Linked DNA regions of Homo sapiens. The protein of the gene in region 1 purifies or fractionates together with the protein of each later gene. This does not show direct contact. Each region holds a gene or a part of one and is shown in the gene's direction. Other genes may lie near its edges. The genes, in order: RO60, NSRP1, LRRFIP1, SMC4, PSMB7, WASHC5 and TNPO1.

The links.
Region 2: the proteins of RO60 (region 1) and NSRP1 fractionate together in Homo sapiens (co-fractionation; one large-scale study listed by BioGRID). This does not show direct contact.
Region 3: the proteins of RO60 (region 1) and LRRFIP1 fractionate together in Homo sapiens (co-fractionation; one large-scale study listed by BioGRID). This does not show direct contact.
Region 4: the proteins of RO60 (region 1) and SMC4 fractionate together in Homo sapiens (co-fractionation; one large-scale study listed by BioGRID). This does not show direct contact.
Region 5: the proteins of RO60 (region 1) and PSMB7 fractionate together in Homo sapiens (co-fractionation; one large-scale study listed by BioGRID). This does not show direct contact.
Region 6: the proteins of RO60 (region 1) and WASHC5 fractionate together in Homo sapiens (co-fractionation; one large-scale study listed by BioGRID). This does not show direct contact.
Region 7: the proteins of RO60 (region 1) and TNPO1 fractionate together in Homo sapiens (co-fractionation; one large-scale study listed by BioGRID). This does not show direct contact.

The regions. Positions count from the first base shown.
Region 1 is NC_000001.11:193,073,112-193,076,611, forward strand, and holds part of RO60 (RNA-binding protein RO60), read left to right. Parts: intron 1-2,708; coding exon 2,709-2,929; intron 2,930-3,389; coding exon 3,390-3,500. UniProt on the Homo sapiens protein: RNA-binding protein that binds to misfolded non-coding RNAs, pre-5S rRNA, and several small cytoplasmic RNA molecules known as Y RNAs.
Region 2 is NC_000017.11:30,172,316-30,175,815, forward strand, and holds part of NSRP1 (nuclear speckle splicing regulatory protein 1), read left to right. Parts: intron 1-226; coding exon 227-283; intron 284-3,500. UniProt on the Homo sapiens protein: RNA-binding protein that mediates pre-mRNA alternative splicing regulation.
Region 3 is NC_000002.12:237,760,087-237,763,586, forward strand, and holds part of LRRFIP1 (leucine-rich repeat flightless-interacting protein 1), read left to right. Parts: coding exon 1-119; intron 120-2,516; coding exon of another isoform or gene 2,517-3,500.
Region 4 is NC_000003.12:160,413,150-160,416,649, forward strand, and holds part of SMC4 (structural maintenance of chromosomes protein 4), read left to right. Parts: intron 1-323; coding exon 324-464; intron 465-1,217; coding exon 1,218-1,368; intron 1,369-3,101; coding exon 3,102-3,266; intron 3,267-3,500. UniProt on the Homo sapiens protein: Central component of the condensin complex, a complex required for conversion of interphase chromatin into mitotic-like condense chromosomes.
Region 5 is NC_000009.12:124,408,943-124,412,442, reverse strand, and holds part of PSMB7 (proteasome subunit beta type-7 precursor), read left to right. Parts: coding exon 1-91; intron 92-3,500. UniProt on the Homo sapiens protein: Component of the 20S core proteasome complex involved in the proteolytic degradation of most intracellular proteins. This complex plays numerous essential roles within the cell by associating with different regulatory particles.
Region 6 is NC_000008.11:125,029,293-125,032,792, reverse strand, and holds part of WASHC5 (WASH complex subunit 5), read left to right. Parts: intron 1-398; coding exon 399-552; intron 553-3,500. UniProt on the Homo sapiens protein: Acts as a component of the WASH core complex that functions as a nucleation-promoting factor (NPF) at the surface of endosomes, where it recruits and activates the Arp2/3 complex to induce actin polymerization, playing a key role in the fission of tubules that serve as transport intermediates during endosome sorting.
Region 7 is NC_000005.10:72,882,661-72,886,160, forward strand, and holds part of TNPO1 (transportin-1), read left to right. Parts: intron 1-403; coding exon 404-572; intron 573-3,500. UniProt on the Homo sapiens protein: Functions in nuclear protein import as nuclear transport receptor. Serves as receptor for nuclear localization signals (NLS) in cargo substrates.

The DNA.
Region 1 (3,500 bases):
CATGGCCAGCGCAATTACAGAACCGGGTAGGATAAAACTGCTTTAAGGAATTTTTATTTTCACTGGAAAAACAAAATAGAAGATATACTCACAGGAAACATTTACTCATTTAAGATGATTTTGCACCAAAATCTGGAAGATAGCAAGAGTCACAATACTTGAGAAGTTCCTGCATGTTAGTGTTAACTTTTGATCAAGTTATTTAGCATTCAAAAATAACATAATAGGCTCAGTTGGCATAGAGATGTGTTTCATGTGGCCTATACAATATTTTTGGGTAAAAATGAATTCTTTGTCATTATCTTTAAAAATCGACATAAAAACCCATATTCTGGCTTCTCTTGAAAGTAAGTTTTTTTTCTTTTGGCAGCACTAAGTCAATACGTGTCTACACCACTTGTCAGGGCACACTCTGTTCAGTCACCACACCCTAACAACTCTCTATTACATCACTGTGTTTGTTTGTTTGTTTGTTTGTTTGAGACAGAGTCTCACTCTGTTGGCCAGGCTGGAGCACAGTGGCACGATCTTGGCCCACTGTAACCTCTGCCTCCTCAGTTCAAGTGATTCTCCTGCCTCAGCCTCCTGAGTAGCTGGTATTACAGGCATGTGCCACCACGCCCAGCTAATTTTTTTTTATTATACTTTAAGTTCTAGGGTACATGTGCACAACGTGCAGGTTTGTTACATATGTATACATGTGCCATGTTGGTGTGCTGCACCCATTAACTCGTCATTTAACGTTACGTATATCTCCTAATGCTATCCCTCCCCCCTCCCCCCACCCCACAACAGGCCCTGGTGTGTGATGTTCCCCTTCCTGTGTCCATGTGTTCTCATTGTTCAATTCCCACCTATGAGTGAGAACATGCAGTGTTTCGTTTTTTGTCCTTGCGATAGTTTGCTGAGAATGATGGTTTCCAGCTTCATCCATGTCCCTACAAAGGACATGAACTCATCCTTTTTATGGCTGCATAGTATTCCATGGTGTATATGTGCCACATTTTCTTAATCCAGTCTATCATTGCTGGACATTTGGGCTGGTTCCAAGTCTTTGCTATTGTGAATAGTGCCGCAATAAACATACGTGTGCATGTGTCTTTATAGCAGCATGATTTATAATCCTTTGGGTATATACCCCGTAATGGGATTGCTTGGTCAAATGGTATTTCTAGTTCTAGATCCCTGAGGAATCGCCACACTGACTTCCACAATGGTTGAACTAGTTTACAGTCCCACCAACAGTGTAAAAGTGTTCCTGTTTCTCCACATCCTCTCCAGCACCTGTTGTTTCCTGACTTTTTAATGATCGTCATTCTAACTGATGTGAGATGGTATCTCATTGTGGTTTTGAATTGCATTTCTCTGATGGCCAGTGATGATGAGCATGTTTTCATATGTCTTTTGGCTGCATAAATGTCTTCTTTTGAGAAGTGTCTGTTCATATCCTTCGCCCACTTTTTGATGGGGTTGTTTTTTTCTTGTAAATTTGTTTGAGTTCTTTGTAGATTCTGGATATTAGCCCCTTGTCAGATGAGTAGATTGCAAAAATTTTCTCCCATTCTGTAGGTTGCCTGTTCACTCTGATGGTAGTTTCTTTTGCTGTGCAGAAGCTCTTTAGTTGAATTAGATACCATTTGTGAATTTTGGCTTTTGTTGCCATTGCTTTTGGTGTTTTAGACATGAAGTCCTTGCCCACGCCTATGTCCTGAATGGTATTGCCTAGGTTTTCTTCTAGGGCTTTTATGGTTTTAGGTGTAACATGTAAGTCTTTAATCCATCTTGAATTAATTTTTGTATAAGGTGTAAGGAAGGGATCCAGTTTCAGCTTTCGAGATGGAGTTTTGCCACGTTGGGCACACTGTTCTCAAACCCCTGACCTCAGGTGATCCACACTCCTTGGCCTCCCAAAGTGCTAGCATTACAGGCATGAGCCATGGTGCCTGGCCTCACCGTGGTGGTTTTATTTATTTTATTTGCTTGTCCCTCATAGACATTTTAATGTTGTAATCCAATCCCTGCTGTTTTACAGAAGTGGTGAAACTAAGACCTAGAAAGACCACCATTTATTGGCAGAGTATAGGCTAGAACCCAGACTTTCTCACCCCCAATCCAAGGCTCTTTTCTCTTTCTTCTATTGGAAGAAATTGTGGAGGAAATCAACAAGTTACTGTTTCCTTTTTTTTTTTTTTTTGAGCAGTAATACTTCTCAGCTATTAAAACATAGTGTAAAAGAAGCTACCCTGTCCACTTCTACTTATTTCTGCTGTTTTTGTAAATATATATATTTTATTCAACAGCAAAAAGAGACAAGTGAATATAATTAATATAATATAATACATTACAATACAATACAATATTAATTGAGATAGATCTGTACTCTCGTGAGTTGTTCTGAGATTATGGACCTGAAACTTTCTAATGCTGGTGTCTTTAAAAAGAAAAGAAAGAAAAGCCTCTGTAACAAAATACTCAGGATACAGGTTTTTTTACTCTAAAGTCTCATATTTAAATAGTAATGATGGAATAAGAAAATTAATTCACCCCATTTGCTTAATTGTTATATCATGGAAAGCAGCATCCCAGTGTAAGGGCATTAACTCTTGTGTATCCAGTTATGTTGATCATATAATGCATTTTGAGGAAACATGTTCTGTTTTTTTACTTGGTAATCCTGCATGCTTTTTCAATTCTTTATCTTGTTAAAGGACTTGCAATTGTGACCAAATATATTACAAAGGGCTGGAAAGAAGTTCATGAATTGTATAAAGAAAAAGCACTCTCTGTGGAGACTGAAAAATTATTAAAGTATCTGGAGGCTGTAGAGAAAGTGAAGCGCACAAGAGATGAGCTAGAAGTCATTCATCTAATAGAAGAACATAGATTAGTTAGAGAACATCTTTTAACAAATCACTTAAAGTCTAAAGAGGTGAGTGAATTATATGTTACAGCATGTGATTAAACATGAGTAATTTAGTGTAGGTGCTAAAAGGATAAACTTGGGGTAGCTATATATTTATACTTTTAAAAAGAAATTATTTAAAATATATCTTGAAATTGATGTCTGTTTAAAACACCTACCATGATGTCCAACATGATGTAGGTGGCATTTGTGTTAGTTTCACTCCAGAAAATCTACTGCCTTGCTAATTAAAAAAAAAATCATCTATGCATTTCCTTCATAAAATATACTTCACATCCTTTTTCTAGTAAAAAACAAGTTAGCTTATTTGATAAGCCTTTTACTTAGACATTTTTCATTCTGAAAGTACTTTGAACCCCAAATGAAAGCCTCAGAGACTGTATTATGAATATTTTTTTATATAGGTATGTTATACTGATTTATTTTCCCTTAATTCCTGGTATTTCTGCCTATGTTATTGCAATAGGTATGGAAGGCTTTGTTACAAGAAATGCCGCTTACTGCATTACTAAGGAATCTAGGAAAGATGACTGCTAATTCAGTACTTGAACCAGGAAATTCAGAAGTATCTTTAGTA
Region 2 (3,500 bases), on another chromosome or scaffold:
TTCTAAAATCTAAAACTTTTTTGAGCACTAATGTGAAGCTCAAATGAAATGCTCATTGGAGCATCAGATATCAGATCTTCAGATTTGGGGTGCTGAACCAGTAAGTATTTTAAAAATCTGAAATACAAAACACTTCTGGTCCCATGTATTTTAGATAGGGGACGCTCGTACTGGAAAAGAAATTTTAAATTTGTTTAAAAAGTGACAATATATTTCTGTTTTACAGACCTCTGTGAGTGAAAGCCTTCAGAGGGAAGCTGCTAAGAAGCAGGCCATGAAACAGGTAAGGTAGAAGACTGGGATAAGTGCATTCAGTGAAGCATTCCGGCTCATTTTTAAGCATCAGTTTTGGTATCTAGGTGCTGAGACTAAAACAGAATAGATTTAAGGAAAAACACAATGAAGAATTAGCTCCTTATTGCTGTGCTATAGATTAAACCAGTTCTGCTTGTAGATGACTCATTAGTCTAATAATGGATTGTTTGGCCTGTTGTTATTATTAAATTCTTGCTAGTGAGCTTACTTGCAGGGAAAAAAAAAACCTTTTCACAACCAAAATGGTTTCACAAACTTATAATTATTTGAAACTCATCTGCCCAGAAAGAAGAATATCAGAGATAGATACAAATATATAGATATATAGATATATAGATTTTTTTTTTTTTTGAGATTGAGTCTTGCTCTGTTGCCCAGGCTGGAGTGCCGTGGTGCACTCTCGGCTCACTGCAGTCTCCATCTCCTGGGTTCAGGCAATTCTCCTGCTTCAGCCTCCCGAGTAGCTGGGACTAAAGGCGCATGCCACCATGCCCAGCTAATTTTTATATTTTTAGTAGAGACGGGGTTTCACCGTGTTGGTCAGGCTGGTCTGGAACCCGTGACCTCAGGTGATCCGCCAACCTCAGCCTCCTGAAGTGCTGGGATTACAGGCGTGAGCCACCGTGCGCGGCCTGATAATTTTTAAAAGACGTGCTTGTTTCCAAGTGCTTTTTACATACATTTATCTTTTACAGTTCTCACAAACTTGCCCATAGTACTGATTAAGAAATCTGAAACTCAAAAAGGATAAAGTGCTCCTTAAGATCATACTATTAATTATCGAACTAGGCCTGAAGGTTTACTAATTTTTCTGCTATTGTAGACTAGTATATCTTAGATTTTCTGCTATAGAATGTAATGAAATTAAACAATAGCGAGGTGCCTTTGTTTTTCATTTTGAATTATTTATCCTCTCCATTAGCTTTATAATTTTTGGTCCTATTTCCTCTTTGTCTAACTGGAAACCTGCATAAAGATAAGTTTATTAAGCACTTTCTATGTGCCAGGCATCATGACAACTATGTTTTAAGAATGATCTTTAATTCTTACAATAATTCTATGAGATAGATGCTTTTATAATCCTTATTTTATAGTTAAGGAAATGAAGGCAAGAAGAATTTATGTGACTTGCATGAGACCACATAGTTAATAAATGGTAGGGCTGTGTTCAAAACTAGACAGTGAAACCTCAGAACCTAGGCTTTTAACCACTGTGTTTCACACCCTCCCGGACGAATTGGCACAGAAGGATATATTTAGTCATTTTAAGATAATGTCAGAGTTTCACAGTGAAATATAATGTGTAACTCAGCAGCCTCAGAATGATTTAATATACACATAAAACATAAAAAACAGTGATTATTTAACATAAATACTGGAGTGCTTTGAGTCAGAATTTTGGAGATACCATTAAGTTCAACTTCCTCACTATATAAATGGGAGACTTAGTTCTGGAGAGTTGGGTAACTTATCCAAGGTAATACAGGTATCTTGTTTTCCAGGATTATTTTAACATTTTTGTGCTGCCTTTTTTTCTTCACTTAAAGCATGAATCCCAAATCTGATTTTATTCTTAACTCTGTCTTGTTCAAGCCACTTTATCTGTTTAGTGGGACTTTTTGTAGTTTGCTTGGAAATTAGGAATGCTGCTACAACTCTTACACCTTTCACCTGCTTTCTGCTGATTTTTTCTCGCACCTATATTACATACTTTTCCCTTTGTTCCCCACTTGATTGATTCAGCTCATCGAATGTCTTTATCCATACGAATTGAAATTATTTTTCATTTTACTATGAAGAATACTAGCTTGATTGCATTTACTAAATCTTAGAGAAAATGCTTTTTAAAATGGGGTACTTTAAACTATTTTTTTCTTCTATGTGGACCTCAAGTTTACAGAACTGATGATGGCAACATTATTGTCATATTCCGTTTCATTGGGAAAACTTTCAGTATGTCATCAGTAAATAAAACATTTGCTGTAGGTCTCTGATAGATATTTGTTGCTAATCTAAGGAAATTATTTTCTTAGTTGGAGGGTTTTGTTGTTTGTTTATTTGTTTAAATGGTGAACTACATACAAAAAGGATACTGCTTCATGACCATGTTGGTTTTATACCAATAATGTAAAGTCAGCTTAACTTTAGAAAATCAATCATTGTAACTTCACATAAGTGGTATAAACTTAACATAAGCATAAAATGTTATCATTTTCATATATTGTTGCATTTGGCTTACTAAAGCTTCATTAAGAGTTTTTAAGTATTGAAGATTTTTGCATCATAAGTGAGACTGGGCAGAATAGGATGGTTTCCTTTTCTTTCGCTGCAATTATCTAGATTGAAAAAGTCTGATAATACCAAGGTTTGGCGAGCCTTATACAATGAGCTAATATGATACTATATACATTTTGTTTGTTTCTACTTCATTTTCTGTCCTGACAGATCAGTGTGTTCTTCATTCTGTTTTCTTTGGGTTTATTTTGTTATTTTTCTAACTTTTTGAGATTGCTGCATAGCTCTGTTTTCTGTTCTCTTTTCTAATATATGCATTTAAGGCTATATGTTTCCCTCTAAGTACTTCTGTAGCTGTATCTTACAGATTTTGATAGGCAGTATTTTTGTTGTTTCATGCAAAACATTTTCTGATTTGCATTATGATTTCTTGTTTGACCCATCTATTATTAATTTCTGAACATAACGGAGGTTTTTGATTACCTTTTTGTTATTCATTCCTAATGTGATTACTTTGGTTTTTTGCTTGTTTGTTTTTTGGGGTTTTTTGTTTTGTTTTGTTTTGTTTTGTTTTTGTTTTTGTTTTTGAGATGGAGTCTTGCTCTGTACCTAGGCTGGAGTGCAGCGGCACGATCTCAGCTCACTGCAACCTCCACCTCCTGGATTCAAGCGATTTTTCTGCCTTAGCCTCCTGATAGCTGGGATTTCAGGTGTGCATCACCACACCTGGCTAATTTTTATATTTTTAGATGGCCAGGCGCTCTCTTCACCTCAGGAGATCCGCCCGTCTTCGCCCCCCAAAGTGTTGGGATTACAGGCATGAGTTGCCACACCCAGTCCCTAACATGATTATTTTGGATTCCAAGACACTGCACTGTATTGTTTCATTCCTTTAAAACCTGTAGAGGTTTACTTTATGGTCCAGTATATAGTCAGTTTTTATAAATATT
Region 3 (3,500 bases), on another chromosome or scaffold:
AGAAATAGCTACCAATGGAGAGACTTCCGACACCCTCAATAATGTTGGATACCAAGGTCCTACCAAGATGACAAAAGAAGAGTTAAATGCCCTCAAGTCGACAGGGGATGGGACCCTAGGTAAGTATTTGCTTTCCTTCGGCTCCTCACACCTTTCCACTCAGCATTGGTTCACCCTCCATGCACTGCTGGGGTTGGAGCCACCGTCGCTGATGGGTTAACAGTCACCAGCATGCCATTTGTTTCATCACTTCATGGTAATTTCCTTGCCCACCCGGTGTGGTCACCCACGTGTTGTCTGGCATGCATCTCTGTGTAGTGCACCATCAATGGCTCAAGTGAACCTTTTCTTTTGCTGCTCAAAGCTACCAAGCAAGACTGTGAAGGCAAAAGGAAAACAGTCTCAAAATTAAGTAACAATGTGGAGAGTACTATTTGGTTTTCCTCAGACACATATATATCTGTACCTATAAAGTGTGGCTTTTTAAACCGATTCTATGACAGAATTATCAAAAGATCAGAATGGTTGAGGCCGTCAAGTCAGTTGGCCATATTTGCAAGCCAACATCGACATCCTGGGCAGCATTCAGCGCTTTGAGGGTACGGGGTGCCTGTGGACAGCAGGTCCGTCTGTGTTGCCTTTTTCAAGCCACCGCTCGAGGTGGGCAGGCGGCCGTGGTAGTGGGTGTGGCGGTGCTGAGAGTCTGAGTATGCCCACCTTTGTCAGAGGGGATCCTCCTTTGTATGCCACGTGTTTGCTTCTGAAAGAATATAAAACTGGGGAATCCAGTAGATCAGAGGAATATTTTATACCATTTTCAATGATCTGATTTGTCATAATTTGTCATAAGAGTTGGCTTTGGGAGAAACCTTCAGATTCTGGCGTGCAGCCTGAAGTTGCAGCGTGCAAGTGAGGCCTCATCTGTCACTGGTCACCCTCTGCGTTCCAGTGTTTTACAAAGAGGCTGGAATAAGGTCAGGGTCCGTGACTTTTCATTTTAATGTAGAAGCTTTCATCTTATTTCTTTTTATTTATGGAAATGTAGACACCTCCAGGCCCCATCTTCTCAGGCCTCGCATTCCAGGGAGGTACCTCATTCATTATCTTTATGACTATTAAAGAAACACAGCTCTTTTCAATTGTGTAAAAAAAGTTGTGGCCTAGTGCAGTGGCTCACACTTCTAATCCCAGCGCTGCGGGTGGCCAAGGCTGGAGGATCACTTAAGACCAGGAATTCCAGGCCAGCCTGGCAACCTAGCAAGATTCCGTCTCTAGATAGGTATGTAGTATCTATATACCGTTGTTGAGAAAAGATAAATTAATCAATTTCCATCATACCTTTATATGAGCTACCCGAACAGCTAGGAATCTGATTACGCTGCTCTTACTCAAATACACATTTTATAAATCTTTGATAACCATTGTGAAATGTTGTAAGAACCAGAAATGTCAGTTTTGAAAGTGGCCTTCAAATGACTTTTGATCACATATTCCTTCAGCAAAGAATTGTAGGATCCAATATGTATGTTTATTTTAAATCTACATATGTATACTATTTCATTAATATAAAATGTACGTTATAAAATATATGCAAAGATATGCAAAGAAGTTTTAGAGTAAAACTCTAAATAGAATTCCTAATATTTCCCCCATTTTCCCTGGGATATGGGCACCCCACCATGGAGATCACTGGGCTATAAAATTATCTAGCTTTGACTTTCAGTAACATAGTACCATATCTAATCTGCTGGGGTTTTGTTTGGAGAGTCCAAAAATTCCAAAACAGTTTGATGTTCTTTAGACGATGAATAATTTATCATTTAATTTAGTGGTCATCTTGATCTTGAACATTTGCCTCCTGCTGGTCCTCTCTCCCTAGTCCCTTAGGGAATGGAGCAGAGGTATCAGGGCATGGACACAGGGTGTTTTCTCAGGAAAACAATAGTTGAGTGGCAGAAGATAGATTTCCTTTCATATGAGCTATTTCAAAAGCATCTTCCTTGAGACTGACCTTGAGGCTGCATTTCTAAAAGTGCACTGAATATTCTTTTTAAAAATTACTTGAAAGCTGCTTTTAGGGCTGTGTGACATGGAGTGCAGTTTGACAGCTGCAAAAGTACAAGTTGTCAAGTTGTTCATTGAGAAGTGAGAGTGGGGAATTGAACCTTCAGTCTGTTCCTAAACCCATCATTGTGGATTGTTTGGCTGCCTGATCCAGAGTTCTTTCTATTTGTTGAAACTTAACGTCACCTTTAAAAATCTGTCCACACAAGATGGCACCAGCAGCCACTCTGGCCTTTGATGTGGTGGCAGTGGCCCTCACTGACCCAAAATTTACTAATGCAACTGCTGCTTTGCCGCACAGAACTGGCAAAGGCTTGTTTCTCATGACTCTTTGATGACTCTGTCTTTAGGAATAGGGGTGGGTGGGATTTGGAACGTGTGTTTACATTCTAATGTAGATTATGTGGCCGCCACATCATGGGGTCCCTTCAATTTTCTCAATGGTCTTTTAGGAAGAGCCAGTGAAGTGGAGGTGAAAAATGAAATCGTGGCGAATGTGGGGAAAAGAGAAATCTTGCACAATACTGAGAAAGAACAACACACAGAGGACACAGTGAAGGACTGTGTGGACATAGAGGTATTCCCTGCTGGTGAGAATACCGAGGACCAGAAATCCTCTGAAGACACTGCCCCATTCCTAGGAACCTTAGCAGGTGCTACCTATGAGGAACAGGTTCAAAGCCAAATTCTTGAGAGCAGTTCTCTCCCTGAAAACACAGTACAGGTTGAGTCAAATGAGGTCATGGGTGCACCAGATGACAGGACCAGAACTCCCCTTGAGCCATCCAACTGTTGGAGTGACTTAGATGGTGGGAACCACACAGAGAATGTGGGAGAGGCAGCAGTGACTCAGGTTGAAGAGCAGGCAGGCACAGTGGCCTCGTGTCCTTTAGGGCATAGTGATGACACAGTTTATCATGATGACAAATGTATGGTAGAGGTCCCCCAAGAGTTAGAGACAAGCACAGGGCATAGTTTAGAGAAAGAATTCACCAACCAGGAAGCAGCTGAGCCCAAGGAGGTTCCAGCGCACAGTACAGAAGTAGGTAGGGATCACAACGAAGAAGAGGGTGAAGAAACAGGATTAAGGGACGAGAAACCAATCAAGACAGAAGTTCCTGGTTCTCCAGCAGGAACTGAGGGCAACTGTCAGGAAGCGACAGGTCCAAGTACAGTAGACACTCAAAATGAACCCTTAGATATGAAAGAGCCCGATGAAGAAAAGAGTGACCAACAGGGAGAGGCATTGGACTCATCGCAGAAGAAGACAAAGAACAAGAAAAAGAAAAACAAGAAGAAAAAATCCCCAGTACCCGTAGAAACCCTTAAAGATGTTAAAAAAGAGTTAACGTATCAGAACACAGATTTAAGTGAAATTAAGGAAGAAGAGCAGGTAAAGTCTACTGACAGAAAGTCAGCAGTGGAAGCCCAAAACG
Region 4 (3,500 bases), on another chromosome or scaffold:
TTTTTTCTTTTTTTGGTAGAGATGGGGTTTCGCCATGTTGCCCAAGCTGGTCTCAAACTTCTGAGTTCAGGCAGTCTGCCTGCCTCAGCCTCCTAAAGTGCTGGGATTACAGGCGTCGGCCACCACATTGGTACAATGAAATCGATTTTTGTTCCTAAATTCTAGCCTTGACCCAGGGGGATTTTCCCCTCATAGCCTAGGCAGTCATATATTGACTAGTTAATAATATTTTAGAAACAGTTAGTTTTACTAAAATTGTTATACAGTTTTGGAAATGGCATTTTAGGAGCTTCAATTTCTTTTTTTTTTTTTCCTCCCTATAGTTATGAGTTGCAGAAACGAATTGCTGAAATGGAAACTCAAAAGGAAAAAATTCATGAAGATACCAAAGAAATTAATGAGAAGAGCAATATACTATCAAATGAAATGAAAGCTAAGAATAAAGATGTAAAAGATACAGAAAAGTAATAATATTTTGGGAAGTACTAAAAGTATTTAGATAATTGTATTACATGTGTATTTATATATAAAGTTACTTCTAGCACATTGTGAGTGTAAGACATTTGCCAGCATATCAAGTGGTGGCCCCCTTAGTGAAAAAAAAAAACTTGCCTTGCATCCAGTTCCTTGTTACAGATGAAATTCCCTACTCTGAAGTCTTAGAACCGTGGGGATGCTACCCCCTAGTGGCGTAGCACAGTAACAAACAATAAGCATTTGGCTTCACAGTTTAATCTTTTAGTAGTCCACAAATCTGATAGAGGGATAGGATTTGGGTTTTTCTAGATAGATTTTTAAGGGTTTTATCATGTCCCTACTTGATGCCATTTTTCAATGACACTAGTATCTCTAATTATTTTTAAATAAAAAAATTTGTATAGTAAGTTTATTGTATAGTAACTTGTAAGTATATTCGTAAAAGGTAAAACCAAAATTTTACTCCTATGGTAAAATTTTTATATACCTAGACATTGTAGTCACTGGAAAATGTGTTATTTTCCCTCCAACTTAGAAAGGCAAAATAGCTGTCATAATCAAAAATACAGGTGCTTCTTCAACTATGGGGAGAGGGATCATCTTGGAATAAGGAGAGTTTTAGGATCCTGCCTTATTAAGAGCCTGGACATATTTATAGAGGAAGTGTTCCAGGTAGGAAATGTGGTTTTAAAATATGTGCACATTCAAAATAATGACTTACAATATACTTGCTTTGCTAGGAAACTGAATAAAATTACAAAATTTATTGAGGAGAATAAAGAAAAATTTACACAGCTAGATTTGGAAGATGTTCAAGTTAGAGAAAAGTTAAAACATGCCACGAGTAAAGCCAAAAAACTGGAGAAACAACTTCAAAAAGATAAAGAAAAGGTAGGTGTTAGAAAAAAATTCTTAAAATTTCACGTCTGAATATCATACCTAGTTTTCATGGATGTGTTTGCCCCTTATTGCCTAAGAGAATGAATTAGTATTCTAAATGTTGTTTTAAGGTTTGTCTCTGAACATGATTTTACCCCCTCAAGGGAAACCTTGCTTCTACTGACTTTATTTTGCAGGAGGTTTTTTGTTTGGTTTTGGAATTTTGCAGAGATGGGGTCTCAGTCTGTTGTCCAGGCTAGCGTGCAGTGGTATGATTATAGTCTTGAACTCCTGGGCTTAAGAAACCTACCTCAGCCTCCCAAAGTAACGTGGACTACAGGTGTGAGCCATTGCTCCTAGCTTGACTTTGAGTTTTAAAGTTTATATTACAATAATATGTTATTGGGAAAACATTTACCAAATCAGGAGTTCCATTTTGGTGTTAATTTTAATTTTCTTTTTCCTAAAGTAGTAGTTTTTAAAGATATTTAAGTTAGGTATTACAGACTTAAAAATATTGCCTGTCTTCTACAAAAACTAAGCTAACAGGATCAGAGCAGGATTTCCCAAGAATTACCAATGTTGGCCAGGCACAATGGCTTACACCTGTATTCCCAGTGCTTTGGGCGGCCAAAGTTGGAGAATTGCTTGATGCCAGGAGTTTAAGACCAGCCTGGGCAACATAGTAAGATCCCATCTCTACAGAAAATCCAAAATTAGCCAGGCTCAGTGGAACTTGCCTAAAAGTCCTAGCTAGTCAGGAGAGTGAGGCGGCAGGATGCCTTGAGTTCAAGATTCCAGTGAATAGTGATCAAGCCACTGCATCCAGCCTGGGTGACAAAGTGAGACTCTGTGTCTTAAAGAGAGATAGGAAAGCTCATAATTTGGAATCTCTTAAGCTGTGTTCATGTTCATAGCTCTGTCATATTTAAACAGATATGATACCTTAACCCCAGCCCCGCAAAAAAAAAGCTTTGTTCCATATGGTTACACAATAATTATAGATTAGGCTCTACTTTACGCTATAAGCATTTTCTAAATGTATTTGTTCACAAAATACTTTCTGCTTAGCACAGCTGATAAATACGTTGAGTCAGTGTTTAAGGAAGTGGCATTTTGGGAAATGTTGAACTTCACAGGTACTAGATAATCAGAGTAAACAAAATAACAAGGCTTTGGGGGTAACCCCAAAGACTTGACAGACTTAGCTAAGTGTAACTGTTACAGAGTGATTAGCCTTTAGGCATAGACTGCATGGATAAGTGATTATTATCAGAAGATGTTAATGGAGTAAAATATTAGCCCTACATGATGACTCTGGAAGAGTAAAGTTGTGAAAGATTTTAGGGTTGGGGAGATGGTAAAGATAATTTGTGGTAAGTTATGATATACCAGGAAGGATAGTTTAGAAAATTCCGTGTAGTCAGAGCATATTTATAGCTAAAGAAGAATAATTACAACCTGAAATCAGGAGAGAAGGATGACAGACCTGAGGCCCTGCCAGAGACAGTTTTCCTTCATAAGAGGTCAGGTGTTTGTAGAAGTAGTTTTACTATTAGATTGAGAGAATATAGAAATTACAGTGAATAGTCGGGAAAATACTTGTTAAAGCTAGCTAATTTAACTCTGATTATAAAGAAAAGAAGAACTAGAGGACCCTGAGAAATGCCTTTAAATATGTCAAATATTGATAGTATTGGGTAACATAAAGATGTATGCTCCTATAACTTGTTTTATAATCTCAGGTTGAAGAATTTAAAAGTATACCTGCCAAGAGTAACAATATCATTAATGAAACAACAACCAGAAACAATGCCCTCGAGAAGGAAAAAGAGAAAGAAGAAAAAAAATTAAAGGAAGTTATGGATAGCCTTAAACAGGAAACACAAGGGCTTCAGAAAGAAAAAGAAGTAAGTTTTTTTTTTTTATCAGTGTTTATTTTGGTGGCTTTTTTTTTTTTAACTTAAAGATTATTTTTTCAAAAATACTGAAACCTGAACTGGTAAGTTTGGACTTTTAATGTCCAACATTCCTAAAACTAGTCAACCTAGACTTAGATGACTATTCTTTTAATTCCTGCTGACATGTTTTTTAAAAAGTTTACTAAATGAGAGTTTGTAGTAGTAGCAGAAGGTGTGATGTCA
Region 5 (3,500 bases), on another chromosome or scaffold:
TTTCTTCCAACCTGGAGCTCCACTCCCTCTCCACTGGCCGTCTTCCCAGAGTTGTGACAGCCAATCGGATGCTGAAGCAGATGCTTTTCAGGTAAGTTTCCAGAATGGGGATTCCTACTAGTATCTTCTTCTCATATCTTAGATTTTTTTCAGCCAAGAGAAGCCTGGAAAGTAGCAAAAACACATTCAGAAATACACATTTTGTTCCGGAAATCAGTTGTTATATTAAAGAGCCATTTTAAATGGTTTTTGATGGTGCATTTGAATTTCTGGGGCCTGATTTTTTTCATGAGTAAATCACATGTCACCAGTTGAGTCATTTCCTGGAGCATAGGGATATTACTGGATAAGAGAAACTTTTTTGTTCACGGTAAGAAAGTTATAGCTGGAGGAACTATCAAGTTGTCTTGTGAAACTACTCTCTCCTCCCCATAAACACAAACCCAAATGATTGTCTCTCCTTCCCCCCACCCCCTCCCTTTAGGGGCAAAATAACAGTGAATGAAAAGTGATATTTATAATTGGCTGTCAGTGGGTATGATAATATTAATATTAACCAACCTTTATCTACCTCTTACTCTGTTCCAGGACCTATGCTAAAGCGCTTTATGCACGATTTCATCCTTTTAACTCTGAGATAGGGACTATTAGCGTCTCCTATTTGTAAGTGAAGAAATTGAGGTTTAAAGAGGTGCAGTAGCTTGCCTGACCTGACCTTCATTCTCTGCTGACTCACAGCTCATATTAGTAGTTTTGTTTCTCTTTCTCCTTTAATAATTGCGTCATTACTTTATGTTTGTATGGGTCTTGGCAGTTTTCAAAGTGTGTTTTCTCATTTGCTTCTCATAAGAGAGGCAGTGATTTTAGGAGAAGTAGCCTGGGCATTTAGTCTTGGGTTGGAATACTGGCTTCTCCTTTTGGGACTTGCCTTACCTTTAACAAATTCTTTGCCTTTTTCCTTCTGTGTAGAATGGATATCATAATACCTGCCCCTAGTGGGGTGGTTGTGAGAATTAAAGGGGAGCACGGATAGACAGTAAAGATTTTAAACTGGTGGCTCATAGGCCATCAGCTTGTAGGGAAATTTGTTTGGGTCATATGGCCTTTTTTTCTTTTTAAATAGTGGCTAACAATTGTAAATGGGGAGATTTGAATTAAAAGTCTAGATTTTGGCTTGGCACGGTGGCACACGCCTGTAATCCCAGCACTTTGGGAGGCCAAGGTTGGCGGATCACCTGAGGTAAGGAGTTCGAGACCAGCCTGGCCAACATGGTGAAACATCTCTACTAAAAGTACAAAAATAGCCGGGCATGGTGGCGCTTGCCTGTAATCCCAGCTACTTGGGAGGCTGAGACAGGAGAATCGCTTGAACCTGGAAGGTGGAGGTTGCCGTGAGCCAAGATCACGCCACTGCACTCTAGCCTGGGTGACAGAAGAAGACTCCGTCTCAAAAAAAAAGAAAAAAAAAAAGTCTAGATTTCTGTCTTTTGAAAACATTGGAAACATGTGGCCGTAATCTTCGGGAACTCATTGGTGGTTGTTGCCTTAGAAGTGGGAGTGGGTGCTCTGTCACTTTCTCTGCCTGGCTCACTTCACTGTTCCCTTCAGGGCCCTGGCCTTCCTGATAATTTGCGGGTCCTCATCTATGTGTCTAGCATGGCCTGTGGGTTTTCAGTAGTGTATATGAGGTTGTAGCAAGGCCAGTAGTATAGTTCCCATTTTACAAATGAGACCAAAGCCTAGAGTCATATGGATAGGAAGCCTTGTCTATCCAATTGCTGCTTTATGTTTGTGTACGTATCATTATTCTAATCCAGGAGAATTATTGCCAACCAAATTCTCCCAGTACAGTGAGTAGAACTTGTTAAAGCACACCTATTGATCAGATTTCTGAAAAGATTTGTGGATTTTAATTTTAAATATAAAGCTCCCTCTGGTGGCTTGCTTGGTACATTATATATAAGGCTTTTTTGAAAACTTTTTTTCTACACGATGTGTCTATGTAATAAAGGCAATTTTTAAGCTTGTAAAATTGCTGCAAATAAGATGTTTCAAGATTCTTTGTAATGTCATTTAAAACAATTAGCAAAAAAATCTAGCAAATGTTTCTGTTAATCACTTCAGAATGTTTTAAGAATCCTAACATCTCGGCTGGGCGCGGTGGCTCATGCCTGTAATCTCAGCACTTTGGGGGGCCGAGGCAGGCAGATCACAAGGTCAGGAGATTGAGACCATCCTGGCTAACATGGTGAAACCCCATCTCTACTAAAATTACAAAAAATTAGCCGGGCGTGGTGGCGGGCGCCTGTAGTCCTAGCTACAGGAGAATGGCATGAACCCGGGAGGTGGAGCTTGGCAGTGAGCCGAGATTGTGCCACTGTACTCCAGCCTGGGTGAAAGTGCGAGACTCCGTCTCAAAAAAAAAAAAAAAATTCTAAATTCTCTTTTTTCAGTGTTTTGTCATTTTTTAGTTCAAGATACTTTGTAAAAGTTAAATTTTATCAAAATTTGAGGACCATTTAAAAATATAAACCAGCATAATTATAGTCTTTTATGTCCTCTTAACATTTTTGGTGAGTTACATAAAATGAGAGTGGTATAAGGAAAGAGTTTAGGATTTGATTTTAGAACTTTGGTTCATCTCCCACCTACAGCACTGACTGTCGTATAAATTTGGGTGATTCTTTCTCAATAAAATGAGGATAATAGTTTCTGTCTATCTGACTTTTGAGGAGGACAGGAATAAAGAAGCTAGGCTCTGACCTTGCATACTACAGAGCCTACTGCGTAGTTAGAGCCCCGTAAAATTCAGTCTGAAAAAGAGTACAAGGTGTTCTTGGTACTGCTGTACTTTTTTTTTCTGAACAGCCCATTTCCTTGTATGTGAGTCAGTGAGAAAATAAGGTTTGATAAGCAGAAGTGATGTCTTTTCCCTTACTTAAGCACTGCCTTTATCTCACACCTATCCTGGCTATATGTAGTTGATGTAAGTAATGCTTGTTCTGTGAGCATGGAACCTCCTTGTTGAGTTTCATAAAAATGTTAGTGAAATGCTGTTGTGTGTTCTAGAAACTATTACTTGAATACGTAGAGACTCTTATATTGTAACTTTTTTTCTTATAAACATAATGTACATTTATTGTAGGAAATTTAGAAAATACTGAAAAGCCCAAAGAACAAAATGAAAACTTTGCCATTCAGGGAGCATCACTCTTGGTTTGGTGTATGTTATTCCAGTCTTCTGTCTCTTAAGTTCTTCCCTTCCTCTCTTCCTTTTATATTGCTAGTACATGTTCATGGTAAAAACAAAACAAAGCTGGAAGATATGAACAAAAAGAATGTAAAAAACTACCTGGATTCCTGCCACCCACGAGCAGTTAGTGCTAAGAGATTGTTACACACCCTTCAAGGTTTTAAAAATAAGTTCAGTAATATTTAGAAAATGGGATTATAGTTGTACTGACTGTAGTATAGCCTAGTCTTCTCACCTAACAGTGCAT
Region 6 (3,500 bases), on another chromosome or scaffold:
TCCAGCTTTTCACTTAAGATAGTAGTTCAGGGTATCTAGTATGTCATGCTGCCGTTAACAGAAGTCAGTTGTAGTGATTTTTTTTCTCATTTACATTTATCTGTATCTTTAAAAATTGCTACAATAATATATGTTAATTGAGTAATTCAAAAGAACCAGTAATGATAATTACAAAATTTAGTAACCGTTTTATTGGTTTTGAATCCTTCAGACCCCTGGAATGCCCTACCAATCCTGTGGCTAATTCAAAATATGGCCCAGAATTGTCATTCCCTCCAAAATATCATCTGCCAGCGAGAATATGGGCCCCAAACATTTTGACCTTCACAGCGTTGGTATTTAATGAATGTTGCTGAAGGCAAGTACTTCATATGGTGTTGCAACTTGTTCCCTTGCAGGAATGGTCTGCCGAAAACCGACCGACCCGGTTGATTGGCCACCACTTGTCCTGGGACTGCTCACTCTGCTGAAGCAGTTCCATTCCCGGTACACCGAGCAGTTCCTGGCGCTGATTGGCCAGTTTATCTGCTCCACGGTGGAGCAGTGTACAAGGTACAGAAGACCAACCAGGACTACGTGGGACTTCTTGTCACAAAACCTAACTTAAACCTCACATTACCAAATTCCTCTTATCGCCCTAATAGAGATGGGAAATGGTTGCTCACCCTTCTCTGTAAAGCAAGTCAGGGCATACCTCCTTGTTTAGAGCAATTACAGGTGTGTCCATCCTTAGTCACCCTGCCAGGGGAACTCCATCCGGTCTACTCACATTGATTTTCCAGGAGTGACTCAGGACCATGAATAGTAACTACCATGGGGAAGAAAGTGCAGCCCTGTTCCTCTGCACTCTTGGATGCAGCTCTTCAATCTCAGCGAGCCCCTGCACTCCTGCTGGGCCACTGCCAAGAGATGATTCCACTCACTTCAGTGGGAGTCAGAGAACATATCAGTGTGTCAAAGCCTGGGCAGTGTCTGCATGTAGAGAAGCAAATTTCACAAGAGTTGCTATTTGATACAATGCTTATAAAACTTTAATTCCTGCCAGTTCTTTTCCCCTGCCCCTAAATGTGGCTTTTCTGGGATAAAGAAAAAAAAGTTATTTCCATGAGATGCTGGGTCCTGTGCCTCCTTCTCTGCTATCCTAAAGGGTCAGCCTGGCTACATAACCTTTGCTGTCATGTTTGCTTGGTCATTTTTGCCACTATAATGTAAAAAACGAATCAAAGCGGCTGGGCACAGTGGCTCAAGCCTGTAATCCCAACACTTTGGGTAGATTACTTGAGGTCAGGAGTTCAGGACCAGCCTGGCCAACATGGTGAAACCCCATCTCTACTAAAAAAACACAAAAATTAACCACATGTAGTGGTGGCCACCTGTAATCCCAGCTACTCAGGAGGCTGAGGCAGGAGGATTGCTTGAACCCAGGAGGCCTCAGAGGTGCAGTGAGCTGAGATCATGCCACTGCACTCCAGCCTGGGTGACAGAGCGAGACTCCATCTCAAAAAAAATAAAACGAACCAAAGTGATCTTCTAAGTCCACACAAAATACTACTAAGTCCTAAAACTGGAAATGATTTTCGAGGTCATTTAATTGACCTCCCACTAAGTGCATGAATGAGCTCTAGGACATCCTTGACAGGTAGTCATGCAGCCACTGCTGGAACACTCTCACCGAGGGGGCTTGTGCTACCTCTCCAGGCAGCACAGTCCACTGGCTAAGTCTTGTTCTCATTAGAAAGTTCCTGATTGTGATTATTAGAACCTGTGTCTCTGGATGTTTCACTCGCTGAGCTTTTTCCTACCTTTTGAAATCATACAGAATAATGCAGTCTCCCTCCTTTGCAACATCACTTCCGATTTTGTATGCCATCTGTTGTCTTAGGTCTTCTCAATGTTTAGATAAGCCCCTTCCACCTGTTCCCGATGTCTTGCAGTTTAGAGGCTGCTCACCATAGTGAGTGACTTTTTCTGGGTGTTCCAGTCTGTTTTTGACCATCTTAAAATGTGGCTTCCCAAACTTGTATTGAGATTCCAAGCACAGCCCTCCCCTTGGCACAGAGGAGTATTACACGTCTTCATTCTGGGCCCTCTGTGGACAGTACAGCAGCTACAATTGCAGTGATGAGTCCTTTTTTTTTTTTTTTTTTTTTTTTTTATGAGAAAGAGTCGCTCTGTCGCCCAGGTTGGAGTGCAGTGGCGTGATCTCGGCTTTGCAGTGATGGGTTTCTTGACATCCAGTGCATACCAGTGGCTCCTACTGATTTTGCATTCTTTCTAAACCCCAATGTCGTTATTTCCCGTGAGCTGCAGTCAGGCCAGCTCCTCCTCCTCTTAGTTAATGAATCGAACAACAAACACTGGTGTTTTCCTGGGATAGATGTTAAGACTTGCTTCAGAAACAAGATTTTTTAACAATTGAAAAATAGAGGAGAACTCAAAGTCTCAAAAATGAAATTGTAACAATCACGAAGTGAGGTCAGTTGGCAAGGAAAGCAGTAGGCTCATAAAAACCCAGCGCCTCTGGCCCAGGCTCCCAGAGAGGAGGGGAAGGACTCCAGTTCAGGTGGTGCGGAGGTGATTAGCAAGTAACCTCCACACAACTGGCTGTCCCAATTGTAGCTCCCTAGCTGTCAACTTGGACAGGTTCTTCTTCCTCTCTTTCTTTTTCACTAATGGCAGTAAAGGCTTAAGTGTGGCTCTAGTCCAGCATGTTATTGGCAACCCTGAGGGTGGTGATCAGGCTACAGGAGACCAGCTGTAAGTCAGGCTTTCTGATTCAGCAGAGCAAAGGAATCTAAGGAACCTGTGACGCATGGGAATTCCTTCCTTTCTCTTGCTCCAAGCAGAGCAAATATAGCCCTGGTCACAGATTGAAAGATTGAGAGCAGGGAGAATTTTTCCAGGTACAGTCATTCTTAACCCATTCAAAAAGCAAAGTTCATCAGCGAAATTAACCAGTAATGTATTAATAGTACTAAAAGTTATTTGTTAATCAGAAAATGCCAATTGGTACAGGAATTGGAAATCGTTTTAACACCTAAAAACTCCTTTTGATGTAAACAAGAAGGAACGTTAGCTCTATAAGGAGCCTGGCATGTACTTTGCTGTATTCCCAGCTCTGGAACAGTGCTTGGCACTGTAGTTGCTGAATGAATGAATACATGAGTAAAATCCCATATGAAAAATTGCTAGATGCTGTATTTATTTGATACCGTCAAATATGCAGTACATGCCAAGCACATTTCCAGATGCTGGAGAAACAAAGATGAACATATGACCTAGGCCCTCGAGGAGTTTATACTCCTGATGGGAACCCAGCACACCATTGAAAAATTAAGAGGCTTGGAGAATGCTGCTAACTATTATGACAGCCCAGGAGAATCAGGGAGGATTCCACAGGAGAAGTACCCAAGCTGAGACTCGAACAATGTCTAGAAGTTTACTTTCAAATCAGTGTGCAGGCCAGGTGCGGTGGCTCACGCCTGTAATCCCAACACTTT
Region 7 (3,500 bases), on another chromosome or scaffold:
GAAGCATAAGTTTAAGTAATGATAAATTCTTGCTTAATTTGGTACTAGATGGTGACATTGGTAGGGTTATTATTAATTTCCCCTTAATTACTTGGAGTTATTTTAAAAACATTCTTATATATGCTGCTCTGAATTTGATTCAGGTAACTTAGATTATACCAGCCAGTGGAGGCCATGTAGTTGGCTGAAAGGGCCGTATAACCTAACAGGTGTGTTAGGTCAGTCTATTCGCCCCTCCATAAGGAATATGTTCTGTACATGGGCGTGGTTCTTAATCACTCTGGAAGTATATTTCAGAATTCTGTGCATGACCCCATCTCTGGATATTCTGTTTCTCTTACTCATGTACATACTATTAGCCTATAATGAATGCCACCAAAAATTTCTCTTAAAAAAACAACAGGGTGATGTTGAAGAAGACGAAACGATTCCTGATAGTGAACAGGATATACGGCCACGTTTTCACCGATCGAGGACGGTGGCTCAGCAGCATGATGAAGATGGAATTGAAGAGGAAGATGATGATGATGATGAAATTGATGATGATGATACAATTTCTGACTGGAATCTAAGTAAGTCAGAAAGGGAAAAGCACAGTTGCCTACTTTGATGATAACTTTATTGGGGTATAATTCATCTACTGTACAGTTTACTACCCATTAAAGTATACATTTCATTGGTTTTTAGTATATTCAGAGAGCTGTTCAACCATTACCACAATCAGTTGTAGACTATGTTTTCATCACCCATACCCTTTAGCAGTAACTCCCTATTGTTCACTGGCTCTGGGCAACTACTAGTCAATATTCTGTCTCTGGGTTTGCCTATTCTAGACATTTCATGTAAATGGAGTCATACAATGCATTGTCCTTTGTGACCATCTTCTTTAACTTAGCATAAAGTTTTCACGGTTCATTTTGTAGCATTCACTTGTATTGTGAAATAATATTTCATTGTAATATGCCACATATTCTCCATTCATTGGTTGGTGGACATTTGTGTTTCTCTTTTTGTAGCTGTTGAGTTGTGATGCTATAAATACTCATGTATAATTTTTGTGTGTAGACTTTTTTTGTTTGTTTGTTTGTTTTTTTGTTTTGAGGCAGGGTCTCTGTCACCCAGGCTAGCATGATTATGCAGTGGCGCAGTCATGGCCCACCGCAGCCTTGACCTCCCTGGGCTCTGGTGATCCTCCCACCTCAGCTCCCCAAGTAGCTGGGACTACAGGTGCTCACCAATACACCTGGATGAATTTTTGTTTTTTTTTTTTTGGTAGAGACAGTTTTGCCATGTTGCCCAGGCTGGTCTTGAACTGTTGGGCTCAAGCGATCCACCCGCCTTGCCCTCCCAAAGTGCTAGGATTACAGGCGTAAGCCACTGTGTCTGGCCCAATGTGTATTCAGTTCTCTTGGGTAAACACTCAGGAGAAGGATTGTTGGGGTCATATGGTAACTGTATGTTTAACCTTTTGAGAAATAACCAGGATGTTTTCCAAAGTGACTGCACCATTCTGCTTTCCTAGCAGCATTGTCTGGAGGGTTCCAGTTTCTTCACATGCTCACTTGCTTTATTATCTCTTTATTATTATAGTCATTCTAGTGGACGTGAAGTGGTATTTTGTGGTTTTGGTTTGCATTTTCCTGGTGGACCTGCTCTTATTTTATCATTATTATATTCTTAAACTACCATTTCTCAAAAGGCTGTTTGTTTTAATACTGTAAGAACATTGCCACAAGCTTTTTTGGTTTTTCTAACATGAGTGTTTTCTGTCTGGTAATTTGCATGAAAATTGGCTATCATAGGTAATTCTAAAATAATATAAGTTGCTTTATTATATTCAAATTTATTATAAGTTGCTTTGTTATAGTCAAAATTTATGAAATATGCTTCTTAAAATATGTTAATTTCCAACCTTAGCTGCAAATCATATCACCTGTGGAGCTAGCATTCTGGCCCACGCTTCCTAATTGGGGATGAACCTAAACACCTGTGTTCTGATTTTGCTTGCTTGTTTGCTGGATTTTAAACCTCTACTGCTCTAGTTCAGGGTTTCTCAGCCTTGGCACTATTGGCATTTTGGGCCACATAATTCTTTTTTTTTTTCTACATGTGAATGCCACATCATGCATGTAATTCTTTGTTGCGGAGGCTGTCCTGCACGTTGTGGGATGTTAAGCAGCATCCCTGGCCTCTACCCAAAGATGCCAGCAGCACAAACACAGTTGTGACAACCGTTATCTCCTGGGGGAACAAAATCAACCCCAGTTTAGAGCCACTACTCTAGTTCAAAGTGTTGGGATTTCTAATAACTATGATTAAAGCAGTTAAGAACAGACATTATCAGTCTGGGCTGTGTTCTTCATTTGGTTAGATAATGCTAATTTCTCTGTTGCCTCTTCAGTTTCCTGTAACTAACATTCTATTTAGAGTGCCTAATGTGCCAGGCACTAGGCCAAGGACTTTGCATGCATATCAAAGTCTGTTTAATCATAAGTAAGAATAAAGTCATATTTAACATTTCCAACAACCTTGAATAGGCAAGAAAACTGCAGAAAGAGAGATATACCCAAGGTTAGCATAGCTAGTACTGATAGCACATCTAGTACTGGGACCCAAGTCTCACTTGTTAAGACAACACATGGTGTTTACTACTATTACAAATTACTTCCCAGTGTATCCCTACTTTCAGATTAGGGGAGCAGGATGGCTCAAGATCATTACACAGAAAACTCTACAAAATAATATACATACATGGATGGGGGAACACTTCCTCTTCACATCCCATTCTTTGTATCCTTCCAAAAGCTTTTCTGTGCGTGCTTGGGAAAACATACAGGCATCTTTTTTAGAGGAGAAGCCAGTTTTCTAAAAGTGAAATCAGATTATATGTACTCTGCTGCTTTCTTTCTGTGTATCGTATGCCTCATTCTTCCTCAGTACATACAGATTTAGATTTCCTTTTGTTGCATGTCAGTGTACTGTTTAGTTGTATGGCTCTACCATGTGGTATAACTAAGATCCTTATTGATGGGTAAGGTGTTAATTTCTGGCCAATGTAATGGTTTTGTTTTGGTTTGGTTTGGTTTTTTTTTTTTTTTTTGAGGATTTTATTATTGTCTAGTAGTTTGTGATTAGCCATTTACTATGCCTAGTTCACGTTGGAAATTTCTGATATTTTCTTAGTCCATTTTGTACTACTATAACAGGATACCTGAAGTTCAGAATGGAGGGGCTGCATCTGGTGAGAACCTCCTTGCAACATCATCTGATGACAGAAGGACACACTTAAGAGCTCAATTCACGCTTATAATAAGCCAACTCTCTTGATAACTAACCCACTCCTACAGTAACGACATTAACCCATTTATGAGGGCAGAACCCTTAAGACCTAATCATCTCTTGATAGGCCCCACCTCCCATCTTCGTTGCTTTAGGGATTAGGTTTCTAATACATGAACTTCAGGAACACGTTCCTACCCATAACAGTTAAATGATATTTT